Linked DNA regions of Homo sapiens: all the other regions are linked to region 1. The links come from fine-mapping of genetic effects on gene expression. A gene starts in region 1. Each other region holds a variant in brackets. All regions are shown on one strand. Distances are between the middles of the regions.

Region 1 (8,268 bases):
TTTGTTTTTTAAAAAATAAAAATAAAAAGCTGTATTACTGAATTTTTTTTTTTAGGAATTCCTAATTAGTGAATTTCCCAAGTAGTCAATGAGTACACCTCAGTTTTGAATACATCTATTGCTCTATTAGAAGTCTCACCATCAAAATACTGTACTCTCAAATCAAGGTATATTAAAGCCACTATCAGACAATACTATCCTTTGGAATCTTCTACAATGAAAATGATAATAACTACTTTTAAGGACAAAATGTTTAATAGGTTTTTTATGCCAAAATAAAAATGCTTTTTTAACATTGTGATTTTGCACGTATGGAAAACAGCTAGATTTTTCTTTCCTATAGTAAAAATAAGCTATCTAATTCAGTTGTTTCATTGGGTAACATAATTATGTTCATTACATGAATCTAAACAAGGGGCAGACGTTACATTAAACCAATTCCTTTGTATCAGAAATTCAATTTTCTCTGAATGATATTCATTCTTAGCAATAAATGCAATTAAACACTGATATTACAATTTTAAAACTCTATTCAAATACCTAAATCTCAGCGTAATGTCAATATAAAGTCTTAAGCAGCCGGACATAATTAAAGGAGCACTTGATTTGGAATCATACATACCTGGGTTGCAATCCTGGCTCTGCCACTTAAATGCGATGTGGTCTTGGGCAAGTTATATAACCTCTCTAAGCCTGTTCCTGCATCTGCAAAAATGGCTTTCTGTTGTTCTTTGGTTTTTTTTTTTTTGAGACTGAGTCTCACTCTATTGCCCAGGCTGGAGTGCAGTGGTGTGATCTTGGCTTACTGCAATCTCTGCCTCCCAGGTTCAAGCGGTTCTCATGCCTTAGCCTCCTGAGTAGGTGGGATTACAGGCGCCCGCCACCCCGCCCGACTAATTTTTGTATTTTTAGTAGAGATAGGGTTTCACCATGTTGGCGAGGCTGGTCTCGAACTCCTGACCTCAAATGATCCGCCGGCCTCGGCCTCCCAAAGTGCTGGGATTACAGGCGTGAGCCACCGTGTCTGGTCAAAAATGGCTTTAAATGGTGTTCTTACTTTAAACACGAGTATCTACGATGAAAAGTGCCTAGTACAGAATATGGTTGTCAAAATATGGTTTCCTCTGCTAGGCATGGTAACACCCACCTGTACTCCCAGGTATACCCATCTGTAGTCCCAGGAGGATTTTGATGCATATTTACTACTTTTTATGAAATTTTCTTTCTTGTATCACAAGAAAGCACTTTATATTTTAACTGTGGCATTATACATCTTCAGATAACTTTCTTTTAAAAATCATTCAGATTGTGTCTATGGAAGCAATTTTCAAGTATATGGGGAAAGAAATGTTAGGAAAGGAGGAAAATCAAAAATTTAAGTCATTCTAACCCACTGTAACGTGTCTAAGAAATCAACTCCAGACAATTCCAAATAGTAACAAAACAAAAAATAAGTACAAATTTTAATTTTAATATAACTTTCCACTTCAAGAGGAGTCTTTTTTTCTGTAGAGCTGGATCATTAATAACGCCAGAATATGACCCTGAATGTCGCTAAATGGATCCAAAAGAAAAGAAAAACCAGACTGGATAACCTTCAATATTTAAAGTGGACATTTTTTTCCACCACACAAGATACATATTAATAAAGGAATTCGTAAATAAACTGAGTATCTCTTCAAATTTTACTCTAGAATTGAGGGCTGGAAGTAACTCTAGTTTTCCTCCAACTTTAGTTGCACTTCACTCAGATTTACTTGATGGTTTTTCTTTCAAGGCTCTTTAAAATGTCAAGGCTTTTGCAAAGCCTTGTACCAAAATAGCTACTATACATAATATTACAATTATTTTCTGGTACATTTTTCCTAAAAATTAATCATCCACTCACAGTAACATCTATTTCTTAGTCTAAATTACACTGCTGAGGGTTTTTTGTTTTTGTTTTTGCTGGCTTCTCAAAAGGTATTTAAAATGATTTTGAGGTGAGAGTATGCAAAAAACACTTCACATTACTTTTCCATATTCAAATTACATCCTCTTGAGCTGATTTTTAAGTGCCATGTACATTTTTAAATCAAAATTTATCACTGTCATTCTTTTAACTCTCGCTCTCCATGCTGAGCTCTTCCAAATGCCAAAGTGCCCTATTAATCCGAAAGTACCTATTATCTGTGCTTTTTTCTGGCCTGTCTTTCACAACTTCACACCAACTTTTTGTACTTTAGACCCCCTCATCCATTAAAGCACCTGTTAACCCTTTAAGGTATTTAACCATATGGTTAGCTTTCCGCATAATCCTACTTTTCCTTTAACAAACACAAACTTCACTACATAATTCCCCTTCAGCGTTCCCTCCTCTTCGAAATTCACATCAACACTGCCGTGAAGCAACATACATAGGCATCCCTATTCTCAAGCCCCAATTCATCAGTTTAGCGCCACTAAAGAAGAATTTAAATCTCCGGACCCTCATTTCCGTACTCCGATGAAGCTTTGCACTCGCGTTCCCGCACTACCCGGCCAGCCTCCCTCAGCTGGCAATTACAAGGTCCTTTGCTGCCCGGAGCACAAGAGTGCAACTCGCTACAGTGTTCACATGTTGCTCTCCGTCATCCCAGCATCTCCTCCCATTTCTGCGCACCTATCCCTTCATGAGCCCCCAAAAGAATTCGTATCCAGATGCCCATAGCTCAAATTAGAATACCCCTCATCTGACATTGCCAGGGCTTCCTGTACGACTTCCAAGAGAACACGCGATGCTAAGCGCTTCTGTCTCCGGAGACCAGCAACACACGCTCCCCACTGAGTTCGGTCTTCTCTCTCGCTCTCTCTCCGCGGAATGCCTACTTCGGGGCTACCCTTTGGCTAGGGAAGCCCAACCTTGCAACCTCTGCCCCGTGACCTCGCGAGCCCAGCACGCCGCTCAAGCTTAATTCAACCCATTCTTGGAGCTCGTGCTCTCGCTGCCCCTTGTTCCCGGTTCTCTTTGAAACCGCTTTCAGCCCCCGAGCCAGACCCCAGGTTAGATGAACGCCCACTTGCTCCGGCGGCAGCGCCTCCTCGGCCCCTTCCACAGCACTCAGCCCGGGGCAGTTCAGTTCCTCACCTAGCTTCGAGCGGGACTCCTCCAGTTTCTGGATCTGGTTTTCCAAGAAGAGCATCGCCACCGCGAAGGCCACCACCGCCAGCAGCTGCAACTTGGGCGGCATCATAATCCTGAGGAGCCCCATGAAACCCGCTGCTCGGGATCAAGACATACCGCGGGGGGCGGGGAGCGGGACCCCGGAGGCGAGAGAGACGCCGGGAGGAGCCCGCCGAGCCGGGAGCGAGGCAAAGAGAGAGCGACAGCGAGAGAACCACCGCAGCGACCCCCCTTCTCGCCTCTCCAGTCCCCCTCCCCCAGGCGCTATCACCAACGCCGCTGGTGTCCGCTTCTCCTCAGCCGACTAAACGGCCGCCCCCTCCAAAAGCCCGCGCAGCAAACAGCGCGAAGCGGCTGCCGGGCTCTCGCCTCCCTCTACTGCCTCAGTCCCCGACCCCCGCGCCCGCCTGCTTGCCCGCCTCCCTCTCTTCCTTCCTTCCCTCCCTCCTTTGCTCGCGGCCGCGCGCCCCTCCACCGGCGCTGCGGCTGCGCCGCCCTCATCCCCGCCCCCGCCCATCCCCCTCCGCCACCACGCGCACGCATCCGCGTACGCTGCTCGGCAACCAGAAGCCCCGCCCCTCCCCCCGTTCGGGTCCGCTTATTGGACGGAAGAGCCCCTGCGCTTCGCTCTTGGTTCGGTTTACGGTTGGTTTCCTCTGCCACAGAGCTCAATCAAGACGACATTCAATTGGGTAAACTTGGAGAAGAAGGCGGGGCTAAAACTGGCGAAGGCGTGGCTTCTTGGCTGCTTGACGAAGTGTCGTGAATAAAAGAAAGGAGACCGCAGAAGTAAAGAAGTGGGGAGTTTAGGCAAGTGCCTGATTTGGGTAATCGAAAGCACCCAGTGATTGTATTTGATGACTTTTAAGCTTTCATATGCCGTTATTTAATACCTGTCACTTCCAAATGAGAGATGTAAGGGCAACGGCCGTTAGCGTTCTGTTTTGGATCAGGCTCTGGAGTGGACGCCCCTAGCTTAGGGGTCCTTCTAGGCAGCCAGAAACCTGCGGAAAATGGTAGCGATGGCGGCTGGGCCGAGTGGGTGTCTGGTGCCGGCGTTTGGGCTACGGTTGTTGTTGGCGACTGTGCTTCAAGCGGTGAGTGTAGATCACCTTCGCAGCTGCCACAGGGAGAGTAGGAGTGATTGCAGCTGAGAAAGACGCAACATTCGGTCCTGGTTGAAAAGGGTGGGGAGGACTGCGCTTCCTTAATGACTGCTGCGGCCAGAATGCAACGTGGCTTAATTTCTCGGTTGATCCTTCTCCTTCCCCGCCTTGGGTTTCTAGCAGCAGTTTTCTCTTGATTTCAGATTGTCTTGGGTACGTAGCTTCTCTTATACGGCTCTTGCTAAAAACAATCTGTAAACCACACCAGGTGGGAGGGGGGAATAATAAAGCTTGGCAAGAAGTGGAGGTTGTTTTTAAATGGACAGAAATGCAAGAGACTCATGACGAGACTTCCAACTCTTAGAGGCAAGTCTTCAAGTCGTTGGTCCAGGCGAACAGTTTGTGTTTACCTCTCTCGCGCGCGTGCTCTCTCATTTTCACTACTTCTGTTAGTCTCTTAACTTCCGTTCTCCTCTGCTATTCATATACGGCTGGCTGCGCTTGAGTGCGATTTGTGCTTTTAAACAATGTTGTTGGAGTAAAAGGAGTTATCTATACCAAAGTATAATTCATTTTTGAAGTTAGTTTTTTAAATGATGTTCGTTGTCTTCTTTAAGGCAGCGTTTTTTATTTCATTTTTCTCTATTGGCAGAATAGATGGGTGACCTTTGAATGGGAAAAGTGTACTTTTAACTTATTTCTTCTCATATCCATGTTCTGCTGTGTGAATAGTAAAATTTTAGGCACAGTGCTGAAAGCTTTTACGTTTTTTTATCCTAGCTTAATTCTTCGGGTAGTCTCTAATAAGGAGACCTGGTTTAATTTACTTATCCAAGGTTGAGGGTGTTAAGGGACTACACCGGAGTCCTCTATGAACACCTGTACTTACCTTTCTCAAAGAGCTTGAAAGCATCCTGGCTGTTTGCTTTGGCTACTTTAACCAAAAGGTAGATTCTTAACTTCTGTAATTAACATTCCAATTATCTTGTTATTCAGGCATTTGGTGCTAGGAATTACTGGATCACCTCTCCCTAAACTTTCTACTGTTTAAGGGTTTTTGCACATCTTTAGGTCATTCGAGATAACATTTCAGGTTGTCTTTTTTTGATCTCCCTCTGTCTTTGACTGTCAGTTGTCTATAGCTGTGTAACCGCCCTAAAACCTAGTAGCTTAAAACAGCAATGATTTCTCATAATTCTGGGTCAGTGGAGTAGAACTACTCCACCTATGTTGGTTTTCCCCTGGCCTCATTTATGCTTTTTGTTGACCTAGTAGGTCAGCTAAACCGAAAGGTTCCAGGATTACCACTGTTTATAGTTGGTGCTGTCAGCTCGAGGACTTGGTTCTGTTCCGTGTGACCTCTCATCCTCCAGTCGGCTAGACCAACTTCTTTTCATGGCACTCTCAGGGCAGCACTCCAAAAGAGCAAAAGCTACAATGCCTTCTAAAGCCTTGCCTTGGAAATCACATATATTACTTCCATCACATATTTCTCAAAGCAAGTCACAAGACTAGTTCACATTCAGGGATGGAGAAATAGATTTCATCTCTACATGGGAGGAATGACAGAGTCACTTTGCAAAGTGTGCATACCAGGATAGGAGGTATTTATGGAATTAACTAATTCCATATGTAATAATGATAGGAATTAATTAAACAGCGTACCACAGTGACTGTGCACAGAATCCAAACTAGAAATTTGGATGTCATGTTTGACTCCTTTCCTTACATATATCATATCCAGGGAATTACTGAAACTTACTGATTTTAATTCCTAAGTATCTCAAATCCATCCACTTATTGTTAATCACTCAGGCCATAAACATCTCTCTCCTCAGAAATAACAGCGTCTTGGTTCACCGTTTGAATTATCCCTGGCTGTATTCAGAATCTAAATGGTTGGCTTTGCCTTTGTCAGCTTCCCAATTGCCCAAGCCAAAAATTAGTCATTTTTGGCCAGTTGTGGTGGCTCATTCCAGTGCACTTTGGGAGGCTGAGGTGGGCAAATCACCTGAGGTCAGGAGTTCAAGACTAGTCTGGCCAACACGGTGAAACCCCGTCTCTAGTAAAAATATAAAAATTAGCTGGGCGTGGTGGCGCATGCCTACTCGGGAGGCTGAGGCAGGAGAATCACTTGAACCCAGGAGGCGGAGGTTGCACTGAGCCGAGATTGCACCATTGCACTCCAGTCTGGGTAACAGAGCAGGACTCTGTCTCAAAAAAAAAAAAAAAAATAGTCATTTTAAATCCTCTTTCCTTTCACTGTCTGAATTCAATTAGTCGTTAAAGCCTTAAAAATCTCTAAGCCAGTCCACTTAATAATTTTGTTTCCACAGTTAGTATTTATATTCAGGCTACTATCTTTGCCTAGAATTACAACAGCTTCCTTAACTAGTCTCCCATCTCATTATTTCATTTCCAATCTCTACAGTGCATCAAGTGATCTGCCTAAAATTTAAATCTGTCATGATTAAAACTCTTCAGTGGCTGCTTATTGTTTTTTAAGGTGAAGTCTGTCTTCCTCAATGTTCCTTAAGGAGGCACTTGTTTGTCTATCCAGGCTTATTCCCCAACATTTACTTCTATTAGGAGAGCAGAAAGGTACAAGTGGAGAATTGGCATCACTTGTTTAGCTTATTTCACATACTGTATTCTCCCTCACCAGACCTTTGAGCATGGTGTTTTCATTACCTACAAGCCGCTTCCCAGCGTCTCATCCTTTCCTCCCTTTCTCCTACCCTACAACAAAAATGGCTGTCTTCTACTTACTCTCTTTCTGTTCTTAGTAGAGAAATCACTTCCTCCAACAAAGCTTCGCTATCCCTCAAGTTTGGATTAAGAGTCTTTCTGTGTGCTCCAGTGGTGATCAATATTTATTCTCTGAGATACGTTCCATAGTTTTCTTTAATAATTTCTTGTTCTTTGGCATTCTCCTACCCACTCCCAAAGGGAAGTACCCTGTCTTTCCTGTTGACTGTTTTATCTCTAGTGACACATATACAGAGTAGTACTATACTTGATGTATAAGTGAAATGTTTGATGAATGAATTAGAGAATCCACAAGCAAAGGTCTGAAAACCTGGAAGTATGAAATCTGTTTGGAAACTATTAAAATCAGCTTCAGTTACCTTCATAGAGCTCTATTATCAGTGATCCCAACTGGAGGTGTGTAGATGAAAATTGTTGGGAGGAGGAGAGATTAAAAAATACATGTGCTTGGACTCTGCCTTAGATATGATTCAAAAATTTGTGGTAGCTGTGCAACTCTAGCTGGTAAGTACATGTTAGACTGAAACCTTTTTTTTTTTTTTTTTTTGATATGGAGTCTTGCTCTGTTGCCAGGCTGGAGTGCGGTGGCATCATCTCGGCTCACTGCAACCTCTGCCTCCCGGGATCAAGCCAGTCTCCTGCCTCAGCCTCCCAAGTAGCTGGGATTACAGGTGCACGCCACCACGCACAGCTAATTTTTGTATTTTTAGTAGAGACGGGGTTTCACCATGTTGGCCAGGATGGTCTTGATCTCTTGACCTCATGATCTGCCTGCCTCAGCCTCCCAAAGTGCTGGGATTACAGGCGTGAGCCACCGCGCCCAGCCAGACTGAAACCTTTTGAGGCAGGAATCAACTTACTCATTTTTTTGTGAATGTGACCCCCACAGGATGGAACATCCTAACTTACCATCAAATAAAACTACTGGGTGATCAGCCACAGCCACACCATTCCACCAAATATTCCCAAAGACAGCCATCATACACAGCCTTTTTCTCTCAAACTCTGCCTATTGAATTCATACTCATGACGTATAATTTAGTGGGAAGTACACTACTTTAACGAAATGTATTTTTTAGTTTTAACTTCTAATAACTGACTAAGGCAAATTAATTTACTCTTGGCCTTTGTTTCTTTATCTCTTTCTCCCTGAACTAAGATGTTTCAATAGAATGCAAAGCTTAACTCACATTCCACTTCCAGACTTGCAAAGTTAGATGTAATTTCTCCCTTGCATATTGTATCATCATA
Region 2 (8,268 bases), 110 kb after region 1:
CCCCCATTAAATACCACAAGGAAATCACAGAGTTATTGCACACAGTGCAAAAACCCAAGGATTTGGCAGTCTTACACTGCCAAAGCCATCAAAAAGGGGAAGGAGAAGGGAGAACAGCAGCATAAGCAGCTAGCAGAGTCAGGGAAAGACCAGCAGAAAGGAAAGAGAGAAAGAGACAGAGAAAAAAGAGAGGAAGAAACAGAGAGACAAAGAGAAGGAGTCAAAGAGAGAGACAGAGAACGCGAGAGAAAGACATAGAAAGTCAAAGAAAGAGAGGAAAAGACAGACAAAGAGGGAGTGAGAAAGTGAAAGATGAATAAGTCAAAGAGAAAGAAAGGGAGATGGAAGTAGTAAAGAAAAAACAGTATACCGTATTCCTTTAAAAGCCAGGGTAAATTTAAAACCTATAATTGATAATTGAAGGTCTTCTCTGTGACCCTATAACACTCCAATACCACCTTGTTAGTGTAAACAAGGGGGTAGCCCGAAAGCACTGAGGCCACTGACAACCCGTAGCCTTCCTATCAAAAATCCTTAACCCAGCAGGTTTCCTAACAGGGGATCTAAATCTGAAGGTCCGACCAGACAGAGGAGGAACTCCCTTTAGGACAGGAGGATAGATGGTTCCTCCTGGGCGATTAAGGAAAAAAGACACAATGGGTATTCAGTAAATGTTAAGGAAACTCTTGTAGAAGCAGAGTTAGGAAAATTGCCTAATAATTGGTCTGCTCAAATGTGTGAGTTGTTTGCACTAAACCAAATCTTAAAGTACTTACAGAATCAGGAAGGAGACATCTATACCAATTCTAAGTTAATATGGACTGAATGAGGTTTTATTAATAGCAAAGAAAAATTAAAATTCCAAACTTACAAGGTTTTCTACTAAAGTAGAGTTTGCTAAAAGTTAACAGTGTAACATGCATTATCTTACTACCACACACTCTCAAAGGCTTTCTCAGACAGTTTGCAAGAAATAATGAAATCTATCCTTACTCTACAATCCCAAATAGATTCTTTGGCAGCAGTGACTCTCCAAAACCATTGAGGCCTAGACCTCCTCACTGCTGAGAAAGGAGGACTCTGAACCTTCTTAGGGGAAGAGTGTTCTTTTTACATTAACCAGTCAGGGATAGTATGAGATGCTGCCCAGCAATTACAGGAAAAGGCTTCTGAAATCAGAAAACACCTTTCACAATTCTTATACCAACCTCTGGAGTTGGGCAACATGGCTTCTCCCCTTTCTAGGTCCCGTGGTAGCCATCTTGCTATTACTTGCCTTCAGGCCCTGTGTTTTTAACCTCCTTGTCAAATTTGTTTCCCCTAGAATTAAGGCCATCAAGCTACAGATGGTCTTACAAATGGAACCCCAAATGAGTTCAACTAACAACTTCTACTGAGGACCCCTGGACCAACCCACTGGCCCTTCCACTGGCTTAAAGAGTTCCCCTCTGGAGGACACTACAACTGCAGGGCCCCTTCTTCACCCCTATCCAGCAGGAAGTAGCTAGAGCGGTCATCAGCCAAATTCCCAACAGCAGTTGGGGTGTCCTGTTTAGGGGGGGATTAAGAGGTGAAGCTGGCTGGGCTTCTGGGTCAAGTGGGGACTTGGAGAACTTTTCTGTCTAGCTAAAGGATTGTAAACACACCAATCAGCACTCTGTGTCTAGCTAGTTGGGTGGGGACTTGGAGAACTTTTGTGTCTAGCTAAAGGTTTGTAAATGCACCAATCAGCACTCTGTGTCTAGCTAAAGGTTTGTAAATGCACCAATCAGCACTCTGTCAAAACAGACCAATCAGCTCTCTGTAAAATGGACCAATCAGCAGGGTGTAGGGATGTAGGTGGGGCCAAATAAAGGAGCAGGCCACCCTAGCCAGCAGCGGCAACCCACTCGGGTCCCCTTCCACGCTGTGTAAGTTTTGTTCTTTCACTCTTTGCAATAAATCTTGCTGCTGCTCACTCTTTGGGTCCACACTAACTTTATGAGCTGTAACACTCACTGTGAAGGTCTGCAGCTTCACTCCTGAAGCCAGCAAGACCATGAACCCACCAGGAGGAACAAACAACTCCAGACGGGCCACCTTTAAGGGCTGTAACACTCACCGTGAAGATCTGCAGATTCAGTCCTGAAGTCAGTGAGACCACAAACCCACCAGAATGAAAAAACTCCGGACACACCATCTTTAAGAACTGTAACACTCACTGTGAGGATCCACGGCTTCATTCTTGAAGTCAGCGAGACCAAGAACCCACCAATTCTAGACACAACATGACTGCATAAGATACAGTACCAAATGGGTGTCACGAAACCATGAAAACCATAGGAAAGATAGAAAAGAATGCTATAAGCTACTCTGGGAAAGGCACTGTGTCCTGCATCCCTTCTCTCTTATTTCTGTTAAGCAGGGCGAGGCCTCCTTAAGAGCATGGTCTCTGGAGTCAGATTGCATAGACTTAATTCCCAGCTTGTCTTAAATCCCACTTAAATTGCATAGACTTAAATTCCATTTGCTAGTTTTGTGGTCTTGGGCTAGTAACTTTTCTGCACCTTAATTTTCTGATCTGTAAAGTAGGTATAAAAAGACAGTAATTAGCGCTGGGCACTGCGGCTCATGCCTGTAATCCTAGCACTTTGGGAGGCCGAGGCAGGTGGATCACGAGGTCAGGAGTTCAAGACAAGCCTGGCCAGGATGGTGAAACCTTGTCTCTACTAAAAATACAAAAATTAGCTGGGCGTGGTGGCACATGCCTGTAATCCCAGCTACTCAGGAGGCTGAGGCAGAGAATTGCTTGAACCCGGGAGGCGGAGGTTTCAGTGAGCCAAGATGGCGCCACTGCACTCCAGCCTGGGTGATAGAGCGAGAGTCCATCAGCAAAACAAAACAAAACAGTAATTACTTTTTCTTCTTGTGAGAATTGAATGAGTGAATACAATAGTGCCTGGTACATAATCAGTATGCAATAAGTATTCACTATGACCTTGATTCAATAAACAATTTTTGAATACCTATGATGTATCAAACACTGTGTTTGAGATACAACAATAACGAATAAAACATAATCTTTGTCCTTAAGGAGGTTACAACTTTCAATGAAAGATACAAACTAGTGAACAGGCCATTGAAGCATGTGGTAAATGAGCACAAGAAGGATGTATTAGTTAAGACTTTGGCTTAGAGAAACAAAAAACAACTGAGCTCTCTTAAACAAAAGAGAGGAGTTAAAAAAATAAAAATGTAGCAGTATGTCAAATAGGACTATTATAGAACCAGGAACTGGAGAGCCACTGGGAGCCCCAGAAGTAGTCTTTCTCTGCTGGTGGGCTGCATTTTTCTCTGCAGCCTGGCCTCATGCTTCTTTGTCCCCACAGAGGGATATGACCATCCCACAGCTCATTCCTGGGTTTACATGTTGAAGCCTGACCAGGAGGCTGGATGGCCTGCCCCTATGCCAAATTCTTGGGGAGGGGAATCTAATTTGTCCCCCTTCAATGAAGGGTTTAACCCTTGTCTAATTGGCAAGGTCATAGTAAAAACATGGCTCTGGGGCCAGTGACTGTAAATTGGGGGAGTGGGCAAGTGAGGCTCAGTTCTTAAAGAAGGAGGTGTGGCTCATGGGCTAATTAGATACTTCCAAAGGTGTCAACTCCAGGAGGGACTCTAACCCAGCCTTGAGTCAGAGGACGCTTCCTACAGGAATTCATGCCTAGGCTAAGACTTTGAAGACTAATGAGAATTAACAGATGAAGGGATGAGAAGAGCATATTCCTGTAATTGTGAGAAGCATGAGTAGAGAGAAGGGGGCATCTCTGGACATCTCCAGGGAGGCCAGGGACAAGAGATGAGCCTGGAAAAATGAGCAGAAGGTAGATCACAAAGGGTCTTTTAAGCTTTACCATGTTAGGACTTTGCTGTGAGTTCTGAGGGAATGTATTAAAGATTTTAAAAGATAACTCGCTTTTCTTTACAACATTGACACCATCAAATGTTTTGTTGGACAAATTATTCTGGGAACCATATGAGAATATGTTGGGGTTGGGGAAAATGGAGGCATCGAGGTAATTTAGGTGAGAGGGGGTGTTGGTGGTCTGAACTAAGGTAGTAATAATAATAAGAAGAAAAAAGTTATGTTGATCTTAGGACACCCACATTACACAGTGCCTGATTTATATTAGGATTTTTGTTGAGTGATAGCAACTTAGAAATCAGATAAACTGGAGTGGCTCCCTCTAGTTCAGATATTTCTTGTTGCTTTGGTGATCAATGGCACTAGAACAGAGGAAGGGCTGGTAAATTCTGGCTGCAGGTCAGCACCGCTGAAAGATGTATTAAAGGCTCTTTCTCCCACTGCCATTTGTAACTCTTTGCATCCCTCGATGTGCCAGGAAACTTCAGCTCTGTAACTCAGGAAGGAGAGAAGAGTTATGGTTGAGGGCCAGGTTGAGAGGAGCAGGAGAAAGAAAGAGAGGAGGTGGGGGAGAAAAAAAAGGAGCAGAAGGAGAAGAAGCGGGAGGAGGAGTGCTGAATGGTATAGATGGTATAGATCTCCTTCCCATCTTGGTCTCTTTGGTTAGAAGAAACTAAAGGAATTATTTTCTAGTGATTCTCTGTGAAACTTGGGAGGGGGTGAGGCTGATGACAGCTACTCACAGAAAATGGTGTGGGAGCCAGGCAGAAGAACAGGGTAGCTGCTGTGGGCACCTGCAGCTGACAGTGTTGCATGGGCCTACATGGAGTTCCCATTTCAGAAATACCTGGGGAGAGAGGAAGGGGACTTAAGGGGAAATCCTGAGTTCTGGTTGCAGTGTATGTGTTTGCATATGTGCATGTAGCAATGCAAAGAAGGTGGCGTGGGAGATCATGCCCTTGTGATTTGGGTAGAACTCTGAGGAACCCTCATTTTCTAGTTATAGGCTGGAGGCTTGGTTTTTGACCCAGATAATCTGGTGTTCAGGAAACAAATAGAGAACATCCTGAGCAAGAATTTGAGTTGAAGTAGTTTTAATTTTGTGCCCATGTCACT[T/A]GAGGGGAGGTATTTTTGCTCACTCTCTGAGTGCACAGGACATAGTACCATGCCGGTGTGGCCTCAGTGTGGATCTTCAGAGGCCTCAGAGCAGCACAGCTGAGCTGGACCATTCATAAAGTTCCCCCAGGCTCACAATGGGGCTTTTTAGCAACCCAGGAACATGGAAGTTTCTCTTTTATAAATCTGATGGTGTGGTCCATAGTCTTCCTTCTTTTTTGGTATCTAGAAGTCCTCCTTTTTTTTTTTTTTTTTTGAGATGGAATCTTGCTCTGTTGCCCAGGCTGGAGTGCAGTGGCACAATCTCGAGTCACTGAGTTCAAGCAATTCTCCTGCCTCATAGTCTTCCTTCCTTTTTTTTTTTTGGGTATCTAGAAGTCCTCCTTTTTTTTTTTTAGATGAAATCTCGCTCTGTTGCCCAGGCTGGAGTGCAGTGGCACGATCTCCGCCTCCTGGGTTCAAGCAATTCTCCTGCCTCAGCCTCTCGAGTAGCTGAGATTACAGGCATCCGCCACCATGCCTAGCTAATTTTTGTTTTTTGTTTTTTTGGGACAGAGTCTTGCTCTGTCGCCAGGCCGGAGTGCAGTGGCGCGATCTTGGCTCATTGCAACCTCCGCCTCCCAGGTTCAAGCAATTCTCCTGCCTCAGCATCCCGAGTAGCTGGGATTACAGGCGCCCACCACCACGCCCAGCTAATTTTTGTATTTTTAGTAGAGACGGGTTTTCACCATGTTGGCCAAGATGGTCTCAATCTCTTGACCTCGTGATCTGCCCGCCTCGGCCTCCCAAAGTGCTGGGATTATAGGTGTGAGCCATGGTACCAGGCCAAGAAATCCTCTTGTAAGGTGAAAAAAAATATATATATATTTTATTATATATATTATATATTTATTATACATATCATATATTATATATATTTTATTATATATTATATATATTATATATTATATATTTTTTATTATATATTATATATTTTTTAGTATATATATTATATATTATATTATATATTATATATTTTATTATATATATTATATATCATATATTTTATTATATATATTATATATCATATATATTTTATTATATATATTATATATTATATATTTTATTATATATATTATATATTATATATATTTTATTATATATATTATATATTATATATATTATTATATATTATATATTATATATTTTATTATATATAATATATTATATATTTTATTATATATAATATATTATATATTTTATTATATATAATATATTATATATTTTATTATATATAATATATTATATATTTTATTATATATAATATATTATATATTTTATTATATATAATATATTATATATTTTATTATATATTATATATTATATATTTTATTATATATTATATATTATATATTTATTATATATTATATATTATGTATATTTTATTATACATTATATATTATGTATATTTTATTATATATATTATATATTATATATTTTATATATAATATATTATATATATTATATATTATATATATTATATTTTATATATATTATATATATATTTTATATATATATAATATATATATATTTTTGAGATGAAGTCTCGCTCTTGTCCCCCAGGCTAGAGTGCGATGGTGTGATCTAGGCTCACTGCAACCTCCGCCTCCTGGGTTCAAGCAATTCTCCTGCCTCTGCCCTCTGAGTAGCTGGGATTACAGGAGCCTGCCACCACGCCTGGCTAGTTTTTTGTATTTTTAGTAGAGATGGGGTTTTACCATGTTGGCCAGGCTGGTCTCGAATTCCTGACCTCAGGTGGTCCACCTGCCTCGGCCTCCCAAGGTGCTGGGATTAGAGGTGTGAGTCACCGTGCCAGGCCATTTTTTTTTTTTAAACCATGTTAAATCAATACTTTTGAAAATAATTTAGGATTTAGGCCAATACTTTGTAAAGGCTTCTATTTAATTATAAAAAGTTCTAAATGTACCTTAAAGAAGACACAATGAAATATTTGACCAATAATTTCCATTCATGTTGCAAAAAGATCATTTACCATCTTATATAGTTAATACATTTACTTCTGATGGCAAATGTACTACTCAAGACCCCTCAAGTGTCTGGAAATAGAGATTTCTTTTAGAAAAGCAGCTGCCTTGTGCTCTGAGTACTTTGCAGTTGACTAATTGTGAGGAAAGGTCCTTTGATGAAGAATCAAATCTGGATATTTTATCATAGAAAAAAGAGTTAAAAAAGAGTTCCTAGGCTGGGCGTGGTGACTCATGCCTGTAATCCCAGCACTTTGGGAGGCTGAGGCAGATGGATCACCTGAGGTCGGGAGTTTGAGACCAGCCTGACCAACTTGGAGAAACCCTGTCTATATTAAAAATACAAAAATTAGCCGGGCGTGGTAGTGCATGCCTGTAATCCCAGCTACTCGGGAGGTTGAGGCAGGAGAATCGCTTGCAACTGGGAGGTGAAGGTTGCAGTGAGCCGAGATTATGCCATTGCACTCCAGCCTGGGCAACAAGAGCGAAATTCCATCAAAAAAAAAAAAGAGTTATTTTGTTTCATGAGGAAGTTGATGCATTGAACTTGGGTTCTGTGACCTTGAGTATAACATTATTTCCCACTAAATGCAAATGTTTTATTTTGTTTGTTTTTTTAAAAAGGTCTTGAGTATCCTGTCTATATCCCTTGGATGCTACCATTTCAGAAAATGCCAAGATTTCCCGTGGCTTATGTCTGTCTCTTCATGCACAAGAACTTTCTCCAGCACTGAGAAAAGTTGCCATGTAGGTGGCAGGAAGTGCTGGGGAATTGATACTACCCAGGAGCAGTCTTCAATTAATACTTATAGGAATTGGTGTATAAATATCCCAGCTCCCCCAGTTTTGAGTGGGATAATTCTGACACACATATTTTCTACTCTGTCTTGCAGTTTCCCTGTGGATTGAGCTGCATCGCTGCCCAGGATGGTAGCAGGCTTAATGACCACCCTTTGGTGGCTGCCTGCTATTCCCTCTGTCATTTCCTTACTTCCCTTCTAGTAGTCCCTGCACCTCTAAAATAAGCTATTCTACTCAAATCTATGTCCTAGGGTTTACTTCTTGGGAAACCAAACTAAGACAGACTCATTTGTTTAAAATGGGATCATTCTGCTATTTCATATTCTGTTACATGCTGATAGAGTATCAAGGCATAATTTCCAAACTGCTATAAAGATAATTCTCATACAAATAGATGCATGTGTCAAGGCTTTATTCAATTCA
Region 3 (8,268 bases), 160 kb before region 1:
TTGATATAACTCTCTCAATTGTTTATTTCCTTATGAATTCATTCATCAACTTTATTGTCATATCAACTTCCCATTCACCCTGATCACTACTCTCTTTACCGGACAACCATTTTAACAATAACCCTTGACGTTTGTTCCCTTGTCTTTTTATTATCTTGGGTAACCACTGGGATTGCTGAGTACTCCTGGTTGAAACCAAGAGACTACATCTAAATATCTATGTAGGATTTTGAATTTTACTTCCTAAATCCATGCTATCTGAGGTAAATTCAGGTGATTATTATTGCTTTAAAATTCTCTAGAATCTATTTGTTTTTTCTTTCTTGAGACAGAATCTCATTCTGTCACTCATGCCGGACAGCACAGTGGCATGATCATAACTCACTGTAACCTCTAACTCCTGGGCTCAAGTGGTCCTCCCACCTCAGCCTCCCAAGTAGCCAGCACTGCAGGAGTACACCACCATGCCAAGCCAAGATTTAAAGAAAAAAAAAATTTTTTTTTTTTTTTGTAGAGTTGTTACCAGGGCTGTTCTTAAACTCCTGGGCTCAAGTGATCCTCCCACCTCAGCCTCCCAGAATCCCAAAGTGCTCACAGGCCTGAGCCACTGTGCCTGGCCTCTACTATTGTTAAAGTCCTCAAAACACACAGAATCTCTTTCTAAGCTCAAACTAAAAGCATACTAAAGGCTAGACATGTAATATATCTGGCATACGTATTTTTCTTTCATCTCATCAGCATTTAACTAAGGCAATATGTTAAAGTTTCATTAACATAGCTGTGGCCGATTTAAAATTTACAATGAATCAAAAGATGCTGAACTGAGGTTTACCTTCTCTTTATGACGAAGAAAAAAGTGTGAAGCAAATAAATGATGTCAGTATGGCTAACATGGTTCACACTAATCTAGAAAACAGTCTGAGCATTTGAAAGTGTTGGCCAGGTGCAGTGGCTCACGCCTATAATCCTAGCACTTTGGAAAGCCGAGGCGGGTGGACTTCCTGAGCTCAGGGGTTTGAGACCAGCCAAGGCAACATGGTAAAACCCCGTCCCTACTAAAATACAAAAAATTAGCCAGGCGTGGTGGCTCATGCCTGTAATCCTAGCTACACGGGAGGCTGAGACAGGAGAATCGCTTGGACCCGGGAGGTGGAGGTTGCAGTGAGCCTAGATCGCACCACTGCACTCCAGCCTGGTCCAGCCTGGGCGACCGAGCAAGGCTGTGTCTCAAAAAAAAAAAAAGTATCATTTACATACTGCTGAAATTCCATATTATCTTTATCTCCTCTTCAAAACTGTTCTCCAAGGAAATAATATGAGTAACTCCCTTTGAAAAACAGTACTTTTAAAAGTTTTATTTTTAAAGTATTAATTCGGCCACTTCTCCTTTTACAGTTTAATATTTATCCTTAGTTCTCCAGAACTTTCCTGGTCTCTACTCTTTCACCTTCATCTTTTCTCTCTCATCAGTCTAGTCCCAGTTCTGCTCTATCATGATCTGCCTTCTCACCTCCCTGCACCACTTGCTTTGTCTTTCAGTTTGTTTTCTTCTGGTATTTCTCTTGGGCATGCTGCCTAAGACCTTGAGACAAGGTTTGAAAATACAGAGGAGTAAGAAGAGGACACTGAGATTAGGTAAGCAAACTTCTACTCAGTTCACTTTATGGATTCTTACTGACTATACTTGGCACAAATGAAAGGTAAAGTGATAGGCCAAAAAAGGAGCAAAACTTAATAGTATCAATTGAAGTTAAGGAGACTGAAGACACTGAAAACTCTGGCTTGGGGAGAAGAAATAAGGCCACTACAGTGACTTTAGTCATAGAAAATTTTCATACTCTGACTGAAATATGCTACCAAGAAGAATGTTTCAGATGTAGTAGTCAGATATAGTACATGAAACGCAGCTAGCCTGAAGCAGAGTGTAAACCGTGATTTTTGTTGGATTTGATGACTCAAGTCAGGCTAGCAAGTAATAAGAAGAGACCTTAAGGAAAAACACAAACAATATAGGTAATGGTGTTGGGGTTTTTTGTTAGTTGAATCAGACCTAAACTGATGTTACAGGAAAAAGCTAAGAAGCACCCTTCTCACTAACAGTAGTGTCTTGACCTATATTCTTAATAGATCAACCTCAATATTATGATTATCTGTGATAACAAAAGCATTTGTTTTCACTATCTAAAAGAGCAGGAATGTCATCCTGAACATTCTGGCCAAATTCCAACTCTGTAATTACTATCTGTTGAATGAATGCTACTATTAACTTGAGTAATTACTATCTACCAAACTCCCACTCATGCATTTACTTAAACATTTCTTGTATGGCTGTGGGTACTTTTATGAGACTAAGCCAGGGAGAAAGTTTTCTACACTCACAGGAAAACAAAGTAGTGGTTGGATAAAAATATAAGAAAAGTTTGCAGTAATTGAACATATCTTCACTGAAGTTCAGAGCTGTGCTGTTCAACCTGTTTTAGGAGTGTAGGGCAGGGGGCTGGTTCCCAATCCACCTGAGAGATAAGAATAGATCATACTGCTGTCAATCAGAGGTGCTCACTCTGCCAGTAATTATTATCATCTACCGCTATCAAAATCTATGTTGGTCCATTTGTTCATTCATTCATCATTTATTTAACAAAAAATGTATAGTTTCTACTATGTCTCAGGCACTATTCTAAACATAAGGGATATAGTAGTGAACAAGACAGACAAGGTTCCTATCCTTAAAGATCTTATAATAGAGGAAAAGACAGGCAGTAAACAAACCAATATATAAGATAAGTTAGTAAGCTGATTAGTACCAGAGAAGACACAACAAGAGTGATACAGTACACAGTAACTTAGAAGAGGTAATTAATATGTAGGATGGCCAGGCATGGTTTTTCTAAGAGGATGTCATTAAACCTTAAATGGATAACATGAAGCCAACTCTGGAAGAAGCCAGGAGAAGTGCATTCTAAGAGGAAAGGATAAGTGCGGAGGCCTTAAAATGGGAAAGGCTTGGCGTATTCAATGAAACACAAGGCCAGTGTGGCTAGTGGGTAAGAAGTTGGTGCACACAAGGGCTAGATTAAAAAGGGCCTCTTGGTCTATGTAAGAAATGTGGATTTTGTAGGGGAGGTAGGAATAACAATTTAAAGATAAGTACCCTACCATCCTGGGAAGACTAAAGTATTCATCTTCCCATATCCCTACTGAGAATCATCATCTGTATCTTTGTTACTCAAACTGCAGTTTAAAGACCAGCGGCATTAATTTTGGCATCCAGTGGGAGTTGTTTAAAAATTGAAAACTGGGCTCCATCTTGGTCCTTCTGAATCTGAATCTGCATTTTAACCAGTGATTAGCATACACATTATAGGTGGAGAAAATTCATCTAAAGTGCTGCTCTGAAAAGTATCTGCAACTCCTGGTGAACTGTGGGCTCTAACGCAGATAACCTAAAGTTGGCTTGAGAGTGAATTTCAAAAAGAAAAAAATTCATGTTGTTCTTCAGAGAATACAAATTCTAGGTATTTCCAATGTTTTAACAAAAGGGGTTATATATAATCATAGACCTAAACATATGAGAGCAAAAAAGAATTCTTTTTTTGAAAAATCATAAAAGATGTGGCTAATCACATATATGGTATGGCTAAACACATGACAGCAAAGCAAACTCCATTTTTCAACTAGAAGAGTTGATTGATTACCTATCTCTTGCCAATTCCTCTCTATTAACTAAGTAAAGCCCATCGCAAAAATGTATCTTTAATGACTGAGTCCACACCTTATTCTAATTGCTTAGTTTCTCATACCTTATATTCTCAAATGTTTATCTTTTAATATCCTTCTTTTAACTTTTCAACTTTTTTATTTAAAAAAATTTCTAAACTACAGAAAAGATGAAAAAATAGGACAGTGAACATCTCTATACTCTTCACCTAGATTCACTAATTATTAACATTTTGTCACTTTTATCTTTTTTCTCTATGTATGCACATACATACTCAATTTTTTCTGACCTATTTGAAAGCAAATAGTTGTCATTCATATTTAACCCCTAATTACCTCAGCATGTACTATGTCTATGAACAAAGATATCATTTTTGATCAAGGATCTGATCACAGACCATACATTACATTTGGTTTCCATGTCTCTCTAGTCTAGAGAAGCCTCCCTCCAACTTTTTTGGTTGTTATGATACTGACACTTTAGAAGTCAGTTGTTCTGTAGAATATTCTACATTAATTTGTTTTCTCGGGATTAGGTCCAAATCAAACATTT[TG/G]GTAGGGAACACTTTTGGTTAAATATTTCAGTGAGATCACCACAAATTGATGTTTTATTTTAACTGTTTTCATAGCCCCTGTGTTTATGTTTTATGTTCCCAAGTAAATTTTAAATAAGCTCCTTCAAGGATGTGGCCATGCTTTCTATTTCTTTGTTATTTCCCCAAAGAATGTAGTACAACCTTTGTGTATATTACATACACAACAAATAAATGAAAAACTCAAAAGCAGAGTTGACAACTATTTCTAAGGATAGCAGAATATATATAACTATTATACATTGAGTGGTTTTATACCAGACTAAAAATATTTGGGCTTTGCCTCTAAAATTTTTGAGACAAATAATTAAGCAGGTAAACAGTTTAGAACAATACCTAATATAGTATGTACAAAAAATGTCTAGGAAAGCTGGGGCTAAAGGCAGATATCAAGCAGACTGAACTAAGATTGGAAGGTGAGGGAATAAAGAGGATGGTCAGGTAACATATCTCAAAATATTTTTATGAGTAAACTGAGCTTTACACGGAAGCTGGAGACAACAGATTTAAGAAAGATCTCATCTTTTAAGTTGTACTTGATTAGAAACTATTTCTTAGAGAAGAAAAAAGAGCAAAATAGTTCATTTAATTCTTATTTAAGCAGCTGAGAGGCCAGGCGCCTGTAATCCCAGCACTTTGGGAGGCCTAGGTGGGCGGATCACCTGAGGTCAGGAGTTTGTGACCAGCCTGACTAACACGGTGAGACTCTGTCTCTACTAAAAATACAAAAATTAGCTGGGCGTGGTGGCGCATGCCTATAATCCTCGCTACTTGGGAGGCTGAGGCAGAATTGCTTGAACGTGGGAGGCAGAGGTTGCAATGAGCCGAGATCGCACCATTGCACTCCAGCCTGGGAAGCAAGAGCAAAACCCTGTCTCCAAAAAAAAAAAAAAAAAAAAAAAAGGTAGCTGAGAACAGTACACAGAGACAACAAAATATGATATTATTAAAATAAAAGTGTGTTATATCAGATGGGGTTCAGGGAATATTTAAAAATTATTTTTAAGAAATACAGTGCAATTTTTAGTTTACATTTAGATGAAGCTTACTAGATTAAAAGTGAAGTAAACATGAAAACATGTCACACAAAAGAAGGGGAAGCAGTAAATATAACTTGTTTGAAGAACTGCGTCTACATAGAACAAGAGATCACAAAACTGGAGATAGGGTATATAAAGAACATTTGTTAAGTAAGTTACTCTTAATTAAGATCAGGTTTTGGACTACCAGCTGATAATTTTGAAGTATGTCAGCTAATGATTAAGACTATTCTTCTGCGCTGCCCCACACAAACATTTTTTAAGTGTTGGTCATTATGCAATCCAATTGCTTTTAAGATAGCATTTATGCTTCTCTCCTGCTGTTTTTTTTTTCCTATACATAACCAACAAGTTATTAAAAGAAAAACAGAAGCTTTATCTCATCCAAATGCAACTGGGAAAATATACTACTACATGATGCCTATAAATGTCATATGTGGTGAGCTCCTCCAGATTTATATTTCATGAAAATAATGGTTGATGTCATTGCCAGACATCTTGCAGTTACCAGGACTTTGTAATGCTGAACAAACAAATTAACATTATTTTTCTAAAAAGTACTACTGAATAAATCTGAAATTATTATCTAAGCATGAATACATATTCCTTTTAAACCAAAGCATATTTTGAAAAGCAGTAATGCAAAAAGATTTAAAACCTACTACACACTGTATAAAAACAGAATATTTAGGATACTTGTCCTTGAGATACACAATATTACATAATGAATAGTTTTTATGACACACATAGCTAAAAACAACTCATGTTTCTTCTCATTCATAGAAGAGTTATTTGGTTTGGCCGACAGATGTGGAATTTTGGTTCTACAAAAAAGAGTACTCCAGGATTCTGCAAAGAGCCAAAAATTACATGGGCAGATGACATACCATATACTACTAGCCTTTACAAACAGCTCTCTAGCAAGAAAGCCAACCTTAGTCTTGTGTCTCAATGTAATTCTCTTGTTTAAGTGTAAGGATTATAGTTATGCTAAATAGTGAGATGACAGTCAATTCTGTAACAAGTTCACTGCTTTCAAACAGATAAATATCATTGTAACTACAGGACCATCACAAATATCTTTCTAATAAGCCTACTCCAATTTGGTATTTGATCCTAAGTAGTATTTGCAAACATTATCTTTCCTTCTCATGGGGTGGAATTCCCATGCCCTTCCATATTTATAGAGAGAACTTTATTTATAATTGCAGTCAAAATTCCAGGTGTGGGAGAAATGTATGCTACTACTATTAAAGAGATGAGCAAATTTTATTTCATAAGATAATTTCCTCTACTTTTCTTAAAACCATTTCACAAAATTATTTATTCATCTGTTTATCTAAAACTTCGTGAGAATTTAAAAGGTAAGATTATGTTGAAGAAGCCACAACTAAACTATATATACATTTATAAGCAATGTATATATAAACTCTCTCTGTATCTATCTCTATCTCTATCTAGTAAAGAGGGGCTGGTCACAAAATTGAATACAAGTATCCATCAAATATTTCTCCATCATAAGTTGAGACAATAATTTTTATTGCAGGGTATCATGCCAAAATTATATTTTTAAAAGGATACTATGCTCAGGAACATCAGTTTTCTCAAAAATTCAAGCTATTCATTAATTCATTTACTTCACAAATATTTGAGTACATACTATATGCAAGGAAATGTGTCAAATACTGTCAAGTAAAATTATACAAAAGTTAGCTGGCCCTCTCCCCTAAAAGGCTTATGATCCACTGAGATCAGCACTCACATCCCTTTAAAATACTTTATCCCCTTGAGCTAGAAAATTTGAGTGAGGAAGTATTAGAAAATATTTGGGCATTCCTTAAGTGGTAATTACCTGATCTTGCAATGACATCACTGGATTATTTTTGGTAGTGTTGATATGAAGGACATGGTATTTATTCTTTGCACACAGGTCATAGGCGATATTGGTAAATGAAGTGCTTGCCGTTTTGGGAACTCTGTTATAAATGATCACCATGTCCTCTTCCTCATCTAAAGTGGCATCTTGCCGAGGGCCATCCATTGTATGTCGCTGCTCAATTTCTCGGACTTCGTGTCTTGCAATAGCCCTTTCTGGAAAGAAAAACAGATACGAACTAAGTTTTTAAGGACACTATAAGGAAGTTATGAACACTGAACTTTGGACCATGATTAGAAAAGATACAAAAAAGAAAACAAAAAACAAAAGCAAAGAACCAAGGGATATGGAAAACATGGGTAAATTGCTTGGGTTTCTAAGAGGATCTAGTTGATTCTAAAACAGCTGTACAGCCTGGAACATAATCTTCCTATTCAAGAACTAGGTAAGAGCTGTTGAAGAAATGTTTTGAGGACCAAAGCTTCAGAATTCCTTATGAAGGATAATACATATGTATATCAAGAACAAAAAGGAATAAAGAGTCAACAAATGCAGAATAGCACAGACCACAGAGTACTTCAGTGCAGTTCAAAAGTCACTTTACATTCTAATAGAATTCCTACAGCCTGAACTAATTCTCAAACACACAAAGATTGCATGGAATACTAAACTTCACAGTATAAAAATGCACTTAAAAGAGAAATTACTTATAATTTAAGAAAAGGTTTTGAAATTTATTACCCGATTTAGTTATTCTCTGGTTTATAAAAATGTAGCAGGACAGTGATTATAAAGTGATTATAAATTATAAATTAAAAAACTGTAACAGGACAGTGATTATAAAGTGATTATAAATGCTAATATGACTTAACAAGAGTAGAAACAATATGACTTAGAAGGGTAGAAACAATACTACCATAAATCCTTTTTCTTTTTGGTGTTGCATTAGAAACTATGTTTAGCACATGGCTATGCTTTTCACTTAAATTTCATGGTTCCTCTAAAATTACCTATCTGCTATGTGGTTTCAAAAGCAGTTACA
Region 4 (8,268 bases), 200 kb before region 1:
ACCCCCCACTACTGCCTGTCACAGCTGTCAGAGCCTATGCAACAGGATGGTTAAGAGCAGAAAATTTGTAGCTAGACTTGGATTTGAATCCTGCTCCACCACTTTCTAGCTGTGTGACTGTAAGAAAGCATCTGAACTTCTAATTCATTCTCATCTGTAAAATGGGGCTGCTAGTAGTACCTTCCTCAGAGGATTAAGAGGATGAAATGAGGCCAGCCATGGGGGCTCAAGCGTGTAATCTTAGCACTTTGGGAGGCTGAGTCTTGAGCCCATGAGTTCGAGGCTGCAGTGAGCCATGGTTGTGCCACTGCACTCCAGCATGGGTGACAGAGTGAGATCCTCTTTCTCTTAAAAAAAAAGGGGGGATGAAATGAGTGTTAACAAATGCATAGCACTTGGTACAGTGCCGGCACATAAGAAGTACACTATACATGGGCAACAATCTTCCTCTTTCAAAAAGAATGTGTTGAGGAAATGCATTGCACCCGAAGGCTCAGTCCACTGCCCTGCTGATCTCTCAGTGTGTGTGGAAGGAAGCCTATAAGCATTGCTATGCACGAAGATCAGTTCTGATTTCCCTGGAAGTCCCTTGAGCTATCGACTAACCCTTGGTCTGGGCTCTTGCTTCTAGGAGAAAAAAAAATGCAGATATAATTTGTGAGAAACAAGTGGGCACTTCTGTTTAAGCTGCATGACTGGAAGAGTTCACACGTGACCACAGACTAAGAATCTCGGCTGGGAAGCACTGCCAATGATGACAGCAACAGGGATTTCCAAGTAGCCACAAGTATTCCCACACTACGTCAACCCATGGCTCCACAGATATTGCCAAGCCAGGGCAAGGAGCCCTCTTGCCATTAAATCCATCACAGTAAACTATTAAGTATGACCAAAGAACACTGGGACCAGAAAGTCCAGATGAAATGCACTTAGTTTGGGTAGCCATTTTGGATTCTCGGCTCTGTCCCTGAATTTCCTGAGCACACTAGTAGCCACGCTGAGGTTTAGCCCCCACATTCACCTCACACAGAAAACAGAAACTCATTAGAAGGGGTGGCATTGTTTGCCTTACTCCAGAAGAGCACATTGGGACTTTTTTCTTCTTATTGACCTGCTCTGTGGTCCCCCAAAACGATATTTCAGAGAGGAATTTACCAATAATGAAATATATAAGATACACTATAGTTTATAACGCAGTCCAATGTAGAAAACAGATGGTGTTGGAGCCAGACTGACCTGGGTTCACATCCTAGTTCACAACTTTTGTTATGAGAAGCCTTAGGTTACTTAACCAGCTAGGTTAAGCTCAACTAGAGCTTCAGTCGTCTCATCTGTAAACTGGTGCTCTAGACCAGTGGTTCTTAACTTTAGTCTTGGTCAGAACCACCTGAAAGCTTATTAATAAACATAGTGCTAGGTCCTACTCAGAAGGCTAGGGCCTAAGAATCTGCCTTTCAACAAGTTCCTAGGGGATGCTGACACTATTGGTCCAGAGATGGGATTATAGCCTAAGAACCACTGCAATTGTTTAATCTGTATTACAGCCCTTGCTGACTTTGAGAGACAGGCACATATCAGGAAGGGCATCAGGGTTTGATGGACTAGGAATCTTGAGGGCTGGGGAGCCCATCTTCCACCTCCTAGCTGTGTCAGTTTCAACTGTAAAACGAGGATAATGGTATCTACCCTTCCACGTGAGAATCTAATGAGAGGATAAATGTGAAATGAAAGCGCCTTGTAAATTATAAAGTTCTAAACAGTTGTAAAGGATTGAATATGAGGATTACTGAAAGGTTAAGCTCATGGTGCAGAGAGAGCCTGTAGTGCAGTGCCTGGCAAACAGTGGGGGCTCAATAAATACTAAATGTAGAAAAAAAAACCCACAAAAGTAAAATTTGCCACTGACTCCATGCCAGAGATTTCAGTCTTTGTCATATATTAAAATAAGAAAAGGTAATAAAGTTGTAACACATGAAGTTCACATTTCAATCGTGGGTGGCAAGGACCTCCTTCCTGGATTCTGATCCAATATTATTCAAATCTCCACTACTTAATGTGGAACTACTGTGGATCTTGATAAGAGGAAAAGGCTGGGCTCTGTTTCCACTTTGCTCTTGGCAGTCCTCAGGCCTCCAGTATAACTTTCTTAGAAAATGAATAGGGCTGGCTCCCAGAGAGACTAATCTAATCTCATCTTGTCCACTCAGAAGATCCGTATCAAACATTACAGACTGTCTGACTGCAGGACTACAGCAGGAAGGAGCATCTAATTCCATCTGGATTTGGATCAGTGATTAAACGATCAAGTAGAGAGCCATTAGCATGGTAGAAATAGAAAAGCAAAATATAACTGGCCTATTTCTTAAACATTGTTCTCATCTAAGGTGTTATTCAAAGAGCCCCCACATGAAACAAAGAGCAAGCCTGCGAGAGAGGAGTTTAAAGTCCACAGCCTCCTTTAAAAACAGACATGAATGGATCAACATGCTGCATTTTTACTGTTTATGGGCATGACAGTCTGATCAGATAACCATGCTATGCCAAGAGACCTAATTAGTAATCCTCTGGCGAATTTTAAATTACTTTTAAAGGAAAAAAAATATGTCTCTGGTAACTCTTGGTTGAATAAAATGTCACTCATTTCTGATCATCCATTTTCAGAAAGGCTCTGCCCGCTTCAAATGGAATTACTGGTGAATTCAGTTACGCAGAAAAGGTATATTTCAGCTAATCAATTTTGAGAGATCCAACAGTTTCAAACACCTAAGACTGAAACCTCTACATTGTTTTTTTTTACAGCACAACCTGGCTGCCTTATCAAGAGGGCACCCAGAATCATCAAAATGGGTACAAATGAAATGTTATTGCCACAGGCACTTTAAATACATCTCTCAAGATGCTACATGAAATACCCAGATTTAGGGCAAATTGGCTCACATTTGTGAAAGCAAAACAAAGTTCAGAAACCAGATCACTTGGGGACTGTAGGTCTACTCTTTGCCAGATTTTAACATTTAATTAGATACAGGTTAAAGCTTTGATAGTTTAAGGCGGCACATGCTTAAAAAATCACAAATTAGCAAGTTTGACAGTTCTTTGATGTTAAATTTCTACTAAGAGACTGAGTGATTTTAAACTGGAAAGAAAGGAGAGCGGAGGGAGAGGGAGAAAGAAAAGAATGAACTGATTCTAGAATCCCAGAATAATCACTCTTCGATCTGCTGCTCAGGGACAGAAATTTCTTAACATTCTTACAGTTCAAAATACTTATGTTGTCTGTTTCATGGAGGGCGTATTTAGCAAGAAAACCTAGACAGGGGTCAGTTACTGCACTTACAGCTCATCCTCTTCCTTTTCCAGCATCACCGATAGACAGGCTGAAGGCTCTAGAAATCTAGTTGCCCACACCCTTGATCTAAAAGAAAATTAATCCATATACGTTTTCTCTATTTCCCTGTAAACGCTGTCAGTGCTAATGATGTGAAACATTTCCAGGCATGACTTTCATTT[C/T]TAAACTTCAGGTTTAGAGAAGTAGAGGTAGAGGCTTAGAGTTGATGTGTTTTATTAGACGCCTTCATCATCAAACCAGAGAACATCAGAAAAGTTTCTAGGGGGTTCTTTCTAAACTCTAACCCAGGTCACAAAATCTGGAAGAGCAAAAGAGGCAAGGAAGCCAAACATCTGATAGGGAGACAGTGAATTCTTTCTTTGTGATCCTATGTTCTTTGGGAAAACACTAGTCTGTTTTATAAGCTTTGACACAGGAAGTAATCATCATTGCCTAATTGAGGCAAAAGCAAGGGGTGCTGAAAATTTGCACAGATGCATTGTGTTACAAACCCAAGTTAATGCCTTCATTCCCCATTTATTGATTATATCCCACCTGTCACCAAATGTTGGCGTTTCTGGCCCTGAGATCTGTCTGCTTCTCCCCAACCTTATCTCTACTTTTCTTGACAACTGCAGTCAGGTCCTCAGAGGTTTTCATGTTCTCAGTTTTTAGCTTGAGAGCCTATTCCTTACACTGCTGCTGTCCTTTCTGTTCAAAGAGTGCAAATCATTTCATTCCTGTGATCCTGAATTTTATGTGTGTACTATTTAGCAGTCCTTACTGTTCAAATATACTAAGATATGAACTCAGTCATTTCTGGAATAAGCAAGTCCTATCTTCTTTAGAACAGTCAGCGTTTCCCCCCTTTAATCTGTACAAATGAGTGATTTGTATGTGGAAAGAACAGCAAGAATCAGAACCAGGAATATTTATGCTACAGGTACATAAGTGAGGCGGTATTAAGATAATCAGTAAAAAGTACAGTCATTCAAAAATATTTATAAAAATATCATTTATGAAATGACAAAACCAGTATTCTGCAGGGTGAGAACGGCACATCAGCTTGGTAACAATATTCCAGCACAGCATATAAATGCCATCAGTTATTAGTCTACCCTGGCCAGTACTTTGCATACATCATGCCCAACCTTTACAACAATCCTGTTATGTCCATTTACTGACATCACATTGCTAAATGCAGATCCCTTTGATTCTCAAGCCATGCTCTTTGTTCAGCCACTGCAAGTACAAACCAAATTCTGTTAAGAAAACTCATCATTGAACTGGTATTTTATCAACCCAATATCATATAATATAAATAGAATCAATCAAGCATTGCTCAAAGCAATGAGCCAGTGGCTAAGAATTGAAAATCAATGGAATTGAGACTTTCTTCTTTAAGGGGGAAAAAAAAAATCAGAAATGTGTGTTCCCAAAAAAAATTATGGATATGTCCAAACTGTGCCATAAATGTTAGATTAAGTTACTTTCAAATTTTTTTAATTCTAATAGCCCTTTCTCTATTTTTTTCTTCTAATTAAGTATATATTTTGTAAGTTTTCCATCTGAAATTTTATTACCAGCAATGAAGTACAAAGCAAAAGCAGCAGAGGCATGTCAGTCCAGATAAAATATTGTCACAAGCCATAAAATCATTAGAAACCAATGATGTTGCATGCTTTCTTGATGGCAACACTATCTGAGAGTTAAGTTGACACTGAACACTGAGTCAGCTTGGAAAATGTCCATCAGTGTCAAGGCTACAAAAGAAAATATTAAAACAGGACACCAATTTTTCCCCTTCCCACTGTTTATTTTATAGCTTTTGCATCAGGTAGTCAACTGAAACACTTCAACATCAGAAAGCTGGCAGAATGTTAAGGAAAAGGAGTGATTATCTCTCCAACAGATGTGACAAAATGGTTTCAAGTTGGAAACAGAATTTGCATAAATGAATCAACTGAATGGAGTGGGGGAGGGCAGGGAGAGAGAAGAGAGAAAGTAGTGAGCATCTTCCAACAGGACTATGAGGGAAAAAAAAGGCACTGTTGAGCTGTGTATTTATAAAATAAAAGTCAAAATACACAATCCATGTTTCCGAAAATTACATTCAACACTGCTTCAGAGATGCTCACATACCTGACTCTCAATAGAAAGCTACAAAAACTGTCTAAAAAATGAGATAGACAGCATCAATGTCTCAACACAGGCTTAACAGTAATGCGTTCTAAAGAGTTCATCACCATCAGGGTCCATTTTATAAATAGTACTGCAAAGGCCACAAAGCTGCATGAAATTACAGGATAAATCTGACTAAATGATCATTCATTTCAATCTCTAAAATTCCTGCTCCAAGAAATCAGAAAGCTCCACTCCAGAGGAGCTGAATTGGCAGTGGATTTGAAACAGGGTTGCTTTTCTCCTCAGAAGGCTGCCTAAAGAGTAGTTTAGTTGGCATCATACAGCAACTTTGCATAGGGTAAACGGATGCAAAAACATAACAGCAACTTCTCTGCTTCCTCTGAAAGTAAACAGCACTAATTTATGAAGAGGCCAACTCAAATCATAAAGGAGAAGCACCTGGGCCTCTTAAAGGCAAACCACATAAAAGGTTACAGGGTGCTTCTCTTAAGGATTCTAGGACCATAGGTGTGTTTGGGAATGACCAATGGAAAAATCCAGTTAGATGATTTACACAGATGTTCTCTATGTAGATTTGAATTTAAATTAAAATGCCAGCTATGCATTTGGGAACCAGCTTTTAGTTAAATTCTCTAGCACTTTTAGAATTATTTGATTTTATTAAAAAAGAATCATTGTCTACAAACTGTTTTCTAACAATGCAAATACAGTAAGCAAGTCATCTGCAATATCAAAATATTGTTTGTAAATCACTGATGGCACCAACGATTTGAGGAATTTCCAATAGGACACATATTGAGAAAAAGCAACAGATTATAGGCATTAACCAAATTTTAAGATCAGAAAATTATAAAAATCATTAAGTTTAAATTATCCAATTTTCAATAGCTTAAATCCAATCATCAGGAATTCAGAAGCACCCAATATGTTTGAAGTTGCACAAATGCATATGGATGATAGGAAAGTAATCCCCATGCAATATCTTAAGTGTTGCTATCAGATATATTTAAGTGCTACTTTACAGATTAAGCTGGGTAAAATCAAAATATATTTTACTTCCCATTAGATTTTAAAACAATCACAATAATTTATCAACAGTTGCCATTTCACAGCAATTAGAAAAGAGGAGTTGATACAAGTTGAACAGAAAGGTATCTTTTCTTCTTTTAGGAAATAAACATATATATATATATGTATATATATTTCACATACACACATAACATTATCTTTAAAATTCCAAGTGGTTACTTTTGTATTATAAAAAAATTATCTCCCTATGGTCAAAATACTGAAAAAGCGCAAAGGCTGAAAAAAGAAAACCACATTTGCCACTTTAAAAAAATACATTATTGTCTCAGTGGTTCTATTTATTTAATTGATTATAAAGTATTATGACTCCTAGTACTGTACTGGACCTGATGGAATTAAATACACCCCTTTCTCAGTCTCCAGAAAGGATACTCCTAACCCACCCTAAAATATGATAAAATAAATGCCCCTATTCTGAACTGTTAAACTGGGAAATAAACCATGCCCACCTGGAAACAATATAAGTCATAAAAGTTTATGAATCTGTGGGAGAGACTACACGAATCAGAAAGCAATTCTTTGGATATAAGTTAGGAGCTTTTAGAAGTATATAAACTCTTTTAGGCATCTAGAGTAGAGACACAAAGAGGATTTCTCCATAAATAATGATTTGGCCAGTGCAATGGTTGGTTGCCCATGGTCTGCATCTGGGATGTCATCTGTTTTTGTAAATAAAGTTTTATTGGAACATAACTGTGCTCATTTGTTTACATAATGTCTATTGCTGCTTTTGTGGTAAAATGGCAGGGTTGACTAGCTGTGACAGAGACCGTATGGGCTGCAAAGCCTAAAATATTTACTCTCTGGCCCTTCCACAGAAAGTTTACTGACCTCCTGATCTAGTTCACCAAGTACTGCTCTAGTTACCTAAAAGAGTTAATGCACCTCAAGAAGATTTGAGCATGTGGTGCAAGAATAACTTGCATACTGGGTTTGTTCATTAGCATGTAATGTCAAACCACACCTTGAAGTGGTGCTTTATTTTGGGCGAGGAAATAATTTGTATACACTTTCAGGAAATACCTATAAAAGTCAATTTGAAAAAAGGAAAGAAAAAAGCCAAATTTAAAAAAAGCCTGCCTATGTTCTTTTAATATTTTTATATTATTGTGAGGAAAGGGTGCTAAGATGATTGTTCTGTCATTCTTTTAGTTTTTCTTTAGTTTATAAATGTTTCTTTTGTTTATAAATGTTTTCTCATAAGAAGTGTTCCCTCATGCCCTCCCATAACCTTTAAGGCAATCTACCTAAAATGCTTACAGTATGGTGAAGCCTTATTCAGAAATATTTACTTAAACCATAGGTATAGAATAGCTACCATTTCTGAATAATAATGTAAAATGAAAACAGAAACAGCTTTCAAATTTGAAGAGAAAAGTTTCCCTGACCCTAGTCAGCTAACAAAGCCTATTTCTAACAGTGAACTTCCTGAACTCAAGCAGCTGCTCATGAAGCTTTAAGAGTTCACAGGCATTTCATATTTCAATAGTTGTTGAAACATGGAAGATAAAACACTGAGAGGATATTTATCAAACACAAATTTATATCAAGATTAACTTTTTCAACCAGCTTACAAGCAGACTTTTCCCTTTCTTTGTTAAAAAATGAATGGTATGAAACTATATGTTAAAGATGTTTCTATAATACCTTACATTTACATAGCGCTTTACAATTTTCAAAGTGCTTTCACATGCCATCTCATTTAA

Alleles and levels. Positions count from the first base shown, and alleles are read on the strand shown. Sizes are in standard deviations (SD) of each study's normalised expression. Not every link is listed here.
For the expression in monocytes after R848 of the gene that starts at base 3,632 in region 1, allele TG in region 3 goes with a lower level than allele G (moderate effect, 0.43 SD a copy in Quach 2016).

The links. PIP is the estimated chance that this variant, and not a neighbour inherited with it, causes the effect.
Region 2: its variant is fine-mapped to the expression of HS2ST1 in whole blood (TOPMed, PIP above 0.99).
Region 3: its variant is fine-mapped to the expression of HS2ST1 in monocytes after R848 (Quach 2016, PIP 0.95).
Region 4: its variant is fine-mapped to the expression of HS2ST1 in whole blood (TOPMed, PIP 0.92).

The regions. Positions count from the first base shown.
Region 1 is chr1:86,909,999-86,918,266 of GRCh38, reverse strand. HS2ST1 (heparan sulfate 2-O-sulfotransferase 1) reads right to left here and starts at 3,632. Exons shown (of 7, transcript NM_012262.4): 1 at 3,107-3,632. The coding sequence starts at 3,230. It overlaps SELENOF (selenoprotein F), which reads left to right and starts at 4,141. Exons shown (of 5, transcript NM_004261.5): 1 at 4,141-4,239. The coding sequence starts at 4,156. RefSeq lists enhancers at 3,892-4,011, 4,062-4,221, 3,615-4,229, 4,332-4,381, 4,230-4,844.
Region 2 is chr1:86,795,615-86,803,882 of GRCh38, reverse strand. No RefSeq gene overlaps it. Among named protein-coding and RNA genes, the nearest start is that of SH3GLB1, 95 kb to the right of the region's middle. The variant T/A (reference allele first, on the strand shown) is at 5,021.
Region 3 is chr1:87,072,107-87,080,374 of GRCh38, reverse strand. It overlaps HS2ST1 (heparan sulfate 2-O-sulfotransferase 1), which reads right to left. Exons shown (of 7, transcript NM_012262.4): 2 at 7,203-7,441. Among named protein-coding and RNA genes, the nearest start is that of LINC01140, 54 kb to the left of the region's middle. The variant TG/G (reference allele first, on the strand shown) is at 4,271.
Region 4 is chr1:87,106,041-87,114,308 of GRCh38, reverse strand. It overlaps HS2ST1 (heparan sulfate 2-O-sulfotransferase 1), which reads right to left. Exons shown (of 7, transcript NM_012262.4): 7 at 4,327-8,268. Among named protein-coding and RNA genes, the nearest start is that of LINC01140, 20 kb to the left of the region's middle. The variant C/T (reference allele first, on the strand shown) is at 3,511.